Regions from separate parts of the Homo sapiens genome. Here region 2 is linked to region 1. The links come from fine-mapping of genetic effects on gene expression. Tissue or cell type: lymphoblastoid cells after a statin. Region 1 holds a variant in brackets; the other region holds the start of a gene. All regions are shown on one strand. Distances are between the middles of the regions.

The links. PIP is the estimated chance that this variant, and not a neighbour inherited with it, causes the effect.
Region 2: SH2B3 starts here. The variant in region 1 is fine-mapped to the expression of SH2B3 in lymphoblastoid cells after a statin (CAP, PIP 0.95). The same link has a PIP of 0.9 or more in lymphoblastoid cells.

What each region holds. Positions count from the first base shown.
Region 1 is chr12:111,583,454-111,588,712 of GRCh38, forward strand. The region is part of intron 1 of ATXN2 (ataxin 2); the gene reads right to left. Among named protein-coding and RNA genes, the nearest start is that of ATXN2, 13 kb to the right of the region's middle. The variant GT/G (reference allele first, on the strand shown) is at 2,935.
Region 2 is chr12:111,402,973-111,407,972 of GRCh38, forward strand. SH2B3 (SH2B adaptor protein 3) reads left to right here and starts at 2,951. Exons shown (of 8, transcript NM_005475.3): 1 at 2,951-3,305. It overlaps LINC02356 (long intergenic non-protein coding RNA 2356), which reads left to right. Exons shown (of 4, transcript NR_187522.1): 4 at 166-338. RefSeq lists an enhancer at 158-407 and silencers at 2,430-2,589, 2,710-3,289.

The DNA.
Region 1 (5,259 bases):
TTAAATTTTAGTTACTGAAGAGTGAACCATGGCCAGGCACGGTAGATCATGCCTGTAATCCCAGCACGTTGGGAGGCCCAGGTGGGCGGACCACCTGAGGTCAGGAGTTCAAGACCAGCCTGAACAACATGGCGAAAACCCCGTCTCTACTAAAAATATAAAAATTAGCTGGGCATGGTGGTGGGTGCCTGTAATCCCAACTATTCAGGAGGCTGAGGCAGGAGAATCACTTGAACACAGGAGGTGGAGGTTGCAGTGAGCCAAGATCGCACCATTGCACTCCAGCCTGGGCAACACAGCAAGACTCCGACTCAAAAAAAAAAAAAAAAAAAAAAAACAGTGAACCATGATTCCAGCTTAGACTGGAGTTGCCAGATAAAATACAAGATGCTCAGTTAAATTTCAACTTTAGATAAATAACTTTTTTCTATGCAATTTAATACACAATTATACTAAAAAACTGGTCAATGTTCATCAAAAATTCAAATTTAACTGAGTGTCCTGTATTTCTATTTGCCAAATCTGACAACCCTAGCTTAGATATAACCTCAAAACTCTTTCTCAATCCTTTTACTGCGTTTCTCTGGCTCTAAAGCAGTAACTTTTTTGACTATATCAATAAAAAATTACTTAAAAAAAAATTTTTGGCTAGGCACGGTGGCTCATCCCTGTAATCCCAGCATTTCTGGACACCAAGGTGGGTGGATCATCTGAGCTCCAGAGTTCAAGACTAGCCTGAACAACATGGCAAAACCTCATCTCTTCAAAAAATACAAAAATTAGCCAGGCATGGTAGCGTGCTCCTGTACTCCCAGCTACTCAGGAGGCTGAGGTGGGAGGATCGCTTGAGCCCAGGAAACAGAGGTTGCAGTGAGCCGAGACTGCACCACTACATTCTAGCCTTGGTGACAGAGACCCTGTCTCAAAAAAAAAAAAAAAAAAAAAAAAAAAAAAAAAATTCATTGAACTGTTGCTGCTCGTGGCAGAGCAGGACTAGTCCATAGGCAATGTGCCCAGAGTTGGCCAAAAATTACATTTTGAATTACAATGCGGTATATATACATTAACTCAAACCAAAGCTTAAAACAATTCTTGGCAGCTGGGTGCAGTGGCTCACACCTGTAATCCCAGCACTTTGGGAGTCGAGGTGGGCAGATTACGAGGTCAAGAGATCAAGACTATCCTGGCCAACATGGTGAAACCCCATCTCTACTAAAAATACAAAAATTAGGCCGGGCACAGGGGTTCATGCCTGTATCCCCAGCACTTTGGGAGGCCGAGGCAAGTGGATCACCTGAGGTCAGGAGTTCAAGACCAGCCTGACCAACATGGAGAAACCCCATCTCTACTAAAACTAAATACAAAATTAGCCAGGCATGGTGGAGCATGTCTGTAATCCCAGCTACTCAGGAGGCTGAGGTAGGAGAATCACTTGAACCCGGGAGGCAGATCGGGCCATTGCACTCCAGCCTCGGCAACTAAGAGCGAAACTCCATCTCAAAAACAATTATTTCAATAATGCAATGCATCCTAACACTTCTTATTCTTTTTCATTTTTCTAAAAATGCTTGTCATAATCCACTAATGTGTTTCACAATCTACTAAGGGGTCATGATCTGCAGATTGAAAAATACTTCTTTGGGAGATATAAAAAATCATTTAACCTGGTGTTATGAGTCACCATTATGAGCACATTAACTAACTACACTGTGCTATAAAACAGTAATGCCCTTAGGGCCTAAGATATACAGCTATAAACTTACAGTCAAAACTCCCAGGCCGGGAGTGGTGGCTCACGCCTGTAATCCCGGCACTTTGGGAGGCCTAGGCAGGTGGATCATCTGAGGTCAGGAGTTCAAGACCGGCCTGGCCAATATGGCAAAACCCCATCTCTACTAAAAATACAAAAATTATCCGGGTGTGGTGGCGGGCACCCGTAATCCCAGCTACTCAGGAGTCAGAGGCAGGAAAATCGCTAGAAGCTGGGAGGCAGAGGTTGCAGTGGGCCAAGATTGTACCATTGCACTCCAGCCTGGGCAACAGAACAAGATTCTATGTCAAAAAAAAAAAGCCAGGTGCGGTGGCTCACGCCTGTGGTCCCGGCACTTTGGGAGGCTGAAGCAGGCGGATCACCTGAGGTCAGGAGTTCGAGACCAGCCTGGCCAAAATGGGGAAACCCCGTCTCTACTAAAAATACAAAAATTAACCCGGTGTGTGACCAATATCTGTACTCCCAGCTACTCAGGAGTCAGGCAGGAGAACTGCTTGAACCTGGGAGGCGGAACTACAGTGAGCAGAGATGGCGCCATTGCACTCCAGCCTGGGTGACAAGAGCAAAACTCCATCTCAAAAAAAAAAAAAAAAAAAAAAAAAAAAACCTCCCAGAATGGTATACTTGTTGAGCTCTTGTGTCTGTTTTTTAGTAGTTCCCATTTTAGTAGTTCCCAGGCTCTTTGCTTTGTTTTTTTGAGATAAGGTCTCATTTTAACGCCCAGGCTGGAGTGCAGTGGTGCAATCATGGCTCACCTCGACATCCAGACTTAAGTGAACCACCTGCCTCAGCCTCCCAAGTAGCTGAGACTACAGAAGTGCACGACCATGACTGGCTAAATTTTTTGTATTAATATTTTTTGTTGAGATGGGGTTTCCCTGTGTTGCCCAGGCTGGACTTGAACTCCTGGGCTCAGGTAATCTGCCTGCTTCAGCCTCCCAAAGTGTTGGGATTACAGGTGTGAGCCACCATGCCCAGCCACCAGTCTTCCAAACTTTTTTTTTTTTTTTGAGACAGAGTCTCACTCTGCTCTGTGGCCCAGGCTGGGGCACAGTGGCACAATCTGAGCTCACTGCAACCTTCACCTCCCGGGTTCAAGCGATTCTCCTGCCTCAGCCTCCCAAGTAGCTGGGATTACAGGCGCCCGCCCAGCCCCAAGTCTG[GT/G]TTTTTTTTTTTTTTTTTTTTTTTAGACGGAGTCTCCCTCTGTCGTCAGTGCAGTGGCCCGATCTCGGCTCACTGCAACCTCTGCCTCCCGGGTTCAAGCAATTCTCCTGCCTCAGCCTCCCGAGTAGCTGGGACTACAGGCACACATCACCACGCCCATTTAATTTTTTTGTATTTTTAGTAGAGATGGGGTTTCACCCTGTTGGCCAGAATGGTCTCAATCTCTTGACCTTGTAATCCGCCCTCCTCAACCTCCCAAAGTGCTGGGATTACAGGGGTGAGCCACCACGCCCGGCCCTTTTTCTGTTTTTCAGTAGAGACAGGGTTTCACCATGTTGGCCAGACTGGTCTCGAACTCCTGACCTCAAGTGATCCACCCTCCTTGGCCTCCCAAAGTGCTGGGATTACAAGCGTGAGCCACCGCACCCAGCTAAGTCTTTCAACTTTCTATCACGCTACTGTTATTTCTCATTGCTGTTAATATATCTGCCTCTGAAAACATTGCTTTTCTACTTGCTGCCAATATGTACATCAGAAAAGAAAGCTAGATAGAATCATGTGTAAAGTAAAAGTTCTCAAAGAGGCCATAAAGAACTCTCCAGACCAGAGGCTAAAGCAGGAGGACAGTTTAAGCCCAGAAGTTGGAGGCCAGCCTGGGCAACATAACAAGACCCCCATTTCTACCAAAAAAAAAAAAAAAAAAAAGAACTCCCCTTTCTAAAATCTGCTCAAGCTTCAGTGAAAAGACATTTAGTCTTCAATTCCTGATTTCGAAATGTGTTTCAGGAATGAAAATAGTTAACTGCACAAAGTCCACAGCAAATGTTTATAAACCCGAAAAGAAAAATGCAGTACTTGTTTCAAAACCCGCCCTTTATAAAAAACTAAAATTATAATCAAGATTAATTCCACTTAGAAAAATTATTAAGAATATTTTAACATGACTTTAAAAAGCAATATGAAAAACGTCAATGAAAAATATTTGACCTGGCCAGCCACGGTGCCTCACACATGTAATTAAAGCACTTTGGGAAAACTAGGTGGGTGGATCATTTGAATTTAAGAGTTTGAGACCAGCCTGGGCAACATGGCTAAACCCTGTCTCTACAAAATATACAAAAGCCAGGCATGGTGGCATACACCTGTAGTTCCAGCTACTCGGGAGACTGAGGTAGGAGGACTGCTTGAGCCCAGGATGTTGAGGCTGCAGTGAGCCATGACCATACCACTATACTCCAACCTGGCCAACAGGGTAAGACTCAGTCTCAAAAAAAAGGAAATTTAAAAAAAAACTGATCATTGGCAACACTGTTCAATAAAGCCTCTCAAGGCAATGGTTTCAGGAGACCAACATTCTAAAGTTCTGATACAGTTAATAAAAATAAACCACGTTCACTTATATTGCCGACAAGCCTCATACCACAACTAATGAGTTTTACAAAGACTTCATTATAGAATGAAATTTTATTACATTCCCAAAATGTAGTTAGCTATTAATCATGGCACGAAACTGACATTTTCGGGCTGGACACAGTGGCTCACACCTGTAACACCAGCATGTTAGGAGGCCTAAGTGGGGTGGATCACTCGAGGCCATGAGTTCAAGATCAACATGGCAAAACTCCACATCTACTGAAAATACAAAAAAACTAGGCAGGCACTGTGGGGCGCACCAGTAGTTCCAACTACTTGGGAGGCTGAGGTGGGAGGATGGCTTGAACCCGGGAGACAGAGGTTGCAGTGAGCCGTATTTGCAACACTGCACTCCAGCCTTAGCAACAGAGCCAGATCCTATCACAAAAATAAATAAATAAATAAATAAATAAATAAATAAAACAAATTGACATTGTAAAGTCACTTGACACAACTTCAGGGTTAAAATTACAAGCAATCTATGTAAGAATCTTTAAATGTTAATGAGAATTTCAAATTTTCACATGAATGCAAACACAAATAATTACCAGCAAATAAAAAGTTAAGGTTGCCAGGCATGGGAGGCCAAGGCAGGTGGATCACTTGAGGCCAGAAGTTCCAGACCAGCCTGGCCAATATGGTGAAACCCCATCTCTACTAAAATACAAAAATTAGCCAGGCGAGATGGTGCGTGCCTGCAGTCCCAGCTACTCAGGAGGCTGAGGCAGAAAAATCGCTTTAACCTGGGAGGCAGAGGTTGCAATGAGCCGAGATCGCACCACTGCACTCCAGCCTAGGTGACAGAGCGAGACTCCGTCTCGGAAAAAAAAGAAAAAAAAAAAGTTAAGGTTAACAGCTGTGACAAGTTTTCATAAACAACCCAGACTCATAAAAAAAATACCAAACCAGGC
Region 2 (5,000 bases), 180 kb before region 1:
AATCCTGTGAGTCTCCGGCTTTCTGGAACTTGGCCAGCAGGAGGTGTTGGTGTTTTTCACAGCAAGAAGGAAGGGCGGTTGGACCTGCTCCCCTAAGACGGCCTGGCTTGTTTCCGGGAGCTACGGATCAGTCATGGGAATTTGAATAACCCTTTCTCTCCTTAGGTCCCAGTGACCTGCCGAGTGGGAAGAGCCGTGGCTGGCCGGCCTCCCAGTGGCGACGACGACCTCGCTGTGTTCGTGGCAGCGGCACTCTCAAATCTGGGCACGGTGATGGGAAGGTTATTTGTTGGAATCCCTTTGCCTTTCCAAGGGAAAATAAACACAAAAAGTGAGAAGTCTTGGGGTCTCAGCGAGCGCCAAAACAAAAAACTGGACTCTGGCGGGGATGTGGGCAAGAAGCGACTAAGCGAGGAAGGAAACCAGTTTGGGCCTCCGAGAAATCTGGCAGGCGAGAAGGTTTGAACCGTGATTAAAAAGGGGAAGAACCACAAGTCCCAATTTAAGTCAGCAGAGCTGCTGTCTGGGCAGTGAGAGGGAAAGTGCTTGTGGCTGGCAGATTTCAGCAGCCATTTGGCATTGGCTGGGTACCGGGCTGCTCTGTGGGTGCTGCCTGGCAGCTGCATGGCTACAGACAAGTAACTGTTCTCTCTTGGCCGCAGTGTCCCCAGGTATAAGAAAGTGATCAAATAATATGGGATGATCCATTCAGACTTTTTTTTTTTTTTTTTTTAGAGACAGAGCCTACCTCTGTCTCCCAGGCTCGAGTGCAGTGATGCAATCTTGGCTCACTGCAGTGTCCACCTCCCAGGTTCAAGCGATTCTTCTGCCTCTGCCTCCCCAGTAGCTGGGACTACAGGTGCGTGCAACCATGCCTGGCTAATTTTTGTATTTTTAGTAGAGACAGGGTTTCACCCTGTTGACCAGGCTGGTCTCAAACTCCTGACCTCAGGTGATCCGCTGGCCTCAGCCTCCCAAAGTGCTGAGATTGCAGGTGTGAGCCACTACACCCGGCCTCGTTTAGACTTCATTGACATTCCCCCACCCCACCCCTCTTCCCACATCCTCAGATGCCGTGTGAACAGCTTGAATCCCACACTCCACAGGTCCTTCTCCTCACAACCCTCCATGGCACCCTACTGCCTTCAAAATAATTCCCAAAGTCCCCACCAAGACCTTCAAGACACCATGTGATGGGCCCACCTTTGAAACATCATCTCTTACCAGTATAGGTGTCACCACTGCCTTTATGACTTTATTCCAAAGCACCACATGTATTCCCACCTCAGCACCTTTGCACATGCTGTTCCTTTGGCCTGGAATGCTCTTCCCTCAGACGTTATAGCACCTGGATCCTTCTTGTCATGGAGGGTTCTAAGCTCACATGTTAGTTCCGCAGAGGTGTCCTTCCTGAGCCCTGGATCTAAGACATCCCCTTCCAGCTCTCCATCCCGTAACTGTTTTGTCATTGTCATAGCTGATCCCACTTGCTTATTCGTGCCTTATGTCCCCCCACTAGAATATCAGCTCCACGCAGGCAGGGATATCTGTGTTGTTCACTGCTGTGTTCCCAGCGCCTAGAACAGTGCCTGGAAATGTGCGGAAAGCAGATTTTTGTGGCCTTTTTCTTCAAGGTCATTGGACACCAGGAATCCTGTAGCAGACCGCTCCCTTCCCCCATCTACTCGGAGTCTGGAAATCCCCACCTTCTGGGGAACCCCTTCCTGTAGTTCTAAGGTCAGGACTGGGGCCGATTTGTTTAACACAGAGAGCTTCCTGGAGCCAAGCCTCGAGCTAACTGCTTTAATGCATTAACTCACTTAATTCTCACTGCCAGGAGAGTGGGTACACATTATTTCCATTTCATAGGCAAGGAAGTGGAGAGGTACGGAGAAGTCAAGTCATTTGCCCGGGTAGGAAGAGGGGGAGGCAGTGGAATGGAGACACTTGCTGCCTGGGAAGACTCGAGGTGGCCCCTCCAAGCTGGGGGCGTGGGCGACTTGTTTCCTGTTGGGGGAGGGGGAGAAGAGTACATTCCTCCCTCCCCGCCCTCCCACATGTTGGGGGAGAGGCTGGCTGAGAGCATGTCCCACTCCGGACTAGGGGGAACCCCACTGTCCGTCTCAGCTCCCCATGAGGCCGTGGAGAAAATGTAAGTAGCCCGGGGGCGGGCAGGGGGGTGGGCGCAGAGGCCACGGAAGCCAGCGGTCGGAGAGGGCTTCCTGGAGAAAGATGCACCCCTCCTAGAATTGGGGGACAGGACGGGCGGCCGGAGCGAGGCTGGGCTATACGGGCACCGGCTGTAGCAAAGGCAAAGCTGAGGGCTGGGGCCAGAACCCAAATCGGGGGCCTGGGGCCGTGGCGGGTCGGGTCAGCATGATCGCAGATAGTCAGGGTCGGGCAGGGCTGGGCTCCCTCCCTGGGGCGATGATGAAAGCCGTGGTCGCTATTGCACCGCCCAGCCCTGCGGGCACTGATAAGGCCCTGCAGGAGGGAGTCAGCAAGGGCGCGCCCCCTGGAGGCCAGGCCCCTCGACCCTGCCCGCCCTAGGCCCCGCCCCTTCATCTGGCCCCGCCTCCAGGCGCTGAGGCACCTGGTGACCTGCCGGCGTTGAGTGGGTGGGGCTAAAGTCGCCCCGCCCCTCCGATCCTCACTTCTATCTTCAGACTGTGGGACGCGAAATCGGGTGGGCACGTGGTGGGCGTGGCTTCGCAAGGCCTCGCCTTTTTCCGGACCCGCGCCAGGAGAGCCCTCCGACCCTGGCAGCCGCGGACTAGCGGGATTGGTAGGCGGGGCCAGTCCGGGCTCCGCCCTCATGGCCCGCCCCTCCAGCCGAATCTCCGACTCGCGCGCGGCCTGAGGCGTGGCTCCTGGTGGCCCCGCCCCTGCCCCGCCCCTGTCGCGGCCGGCCTCCCCCGCCGGGCTCCGCTCGCACGGCCGGTTCCTCTTTACATAACGGCGCGGGGCGGCATGGGCCCGGGCCACCGCCTCCGCCCGGCTGCCCGCCCGGACTGTCGCGGCCCGCGGTGGCGACGGCGGCCGCTGCAAAGTTTCCCCGGCGGCGGCGGCCCGGGGGCGCATCCTCCCGCAACTGTCAAGCGCTGGCGGCGGAAATGATGAGGCGCTGGCCATTTTCCGAGCCCGGGTTTCCTGCCTGAGCCCCGCTCGAGCGAGCCGCGAGCGAGGAGCCGGCGGGCGGGAGAGGACGCGCCCAGGGCGGGGGCCCGCCCGCCCCCTCGGGATTTCGAGGGCCCGGGGGCGCGCGACGCCATGGGCCGGCCGGGCCCAGAGCTCCTGTCTCTCAGGTGAGCCCGCGTTTGCCCGCGCTCCCCTCCTCCGGGGCCGGGAGGGCTTTTGTGGGGAAAGAGGAGGCCCCGTGTCCAGTTCTGCCCGGGCTCTGCGCGTCACCCCCAGCCCAAAATACTGCCCTGCAGCCAACTCGGATGGAGGCGTTCCGGGGTGACGGCTCCCAGCGCCTACGACCCCCCACTCAGCCACTACCCCCACCCACACACGTGTTAGGGAGAGCGTTGGGGTAACTGAGGCCGTGGGATGGGGGAGAGGGCATCGCTGACGCCCCCAGCCCACCCTACGGTAGCCTCGCCGGTTGGGGGCGGCCCTCCCCTCAACTTGTGCCTGGGGAGGAGCGGTCAGGGGTCACCCATTGCTACCCTGAAAGTGAAAGTAGTCAAACTGAGGCTGTGAGCACAGATGAGCCCTTGGGTGTGGGGGCAGCGGGGGAGGATGCGCCGGCCCCTCCCCACTCCCCATTCCGGGCCATGTGGCTAAGAGGGTAGCGCCCTGATTCAGGAAGCCCCTCTCCCCAGTTCCTGCACTGCCGAGGTCGACCGGGCCAGGCCCCCGCATGCTGCTGAATTGGGCGGTTCACCAGGGCTAGGCGTCCCAGAGACAGGTTTCTGGTATTGATCCTCTCACACCTCTTGCCTGGGGTTCCCTGGGAATCCCCCGACCAAAAAACGTCTGGAGTGGGTGTTGGTCTTCTAGATCCGCACGGTAGGGATGGTATTTCAGAGGTCTCTGATGCCTGGTGCAGAAATCCCCTTCCCTCCCTTCCCTCCCTCCGGCCAGGGGAGCTTTGTTTTGAGGGAGGGGGACTGCATTTGAGGAACTGGAGAGGAGGGTCTGCCTGCCTGTCCCGCTTCTTTTTTTCTTTAGTTTCCTCATTCTCCTGTTTCTCTTCCCCATTCCCAGCCACAATGATGTAGGTGAGGAGGTCACTGCCTGCAGCTGGGGGCCTCCAGGGAGGGGCACGGCCAGGCTGGGCTGAGTGGGAGGAAGTGAAATCTGGTGGGGGGTTCAGAGCAGAGGCCCCGGCAAGGCAATGTCGGCAAGGCCAGCTTTGGTGGCAGGAGGGACCGAGATCTGACCCGCAGCCCCTCGCCGGGGAGATGACAGTTCCCTAACACCGGCTAGCAGCCAGGCCTCAGGGCCCCTGCCAGGGCAGTGGGCCTGTGGGTCTCCAGGGATGCAGGCGCAGGTTGTGTCTGGGTTTCCCATCACTGACCTGGCTGCCTGAGTGGAAACAGCTCTGGAGGCTCCTCGGGACCTGCCCTCGTGGAGGGAGAGCCGTCAGAGGCCACCTGGGCAGGCTGGGCTCGGAGGATGAGAGCCAGGGCCTACTGGGGGAAGTTGGAAGGGTTTTTAGTGCACTTTTCCTGAGCCTTTTCCCACTACCCCCTCTGGGAGGGAAAATCCTTCTGAGCCAAAGGGTGAGCATTCCTAGAACTTTTGTGAGTCCCTGTGGGCCACAGAGCGGCCAGCTGGGAAGGGGCTGGCTCAGAGCATCAGCAGCTGGGGGCTCAGGGTCTGCAGGGGCTCAGCAGGAAGTGGAGGAGGATAGTGAGGAGGGTCCTGGAGACTGTGCTTTGCTACTCCTATTGCCTTCGTTCAGCTGAAGGCGTGGGCAAGTGACTCTGCCCTCAGTTTCCCTCTGTGTAAAATGGGGGAGTAACAGGTTTGCAGTGGAGATTTAATGAGCC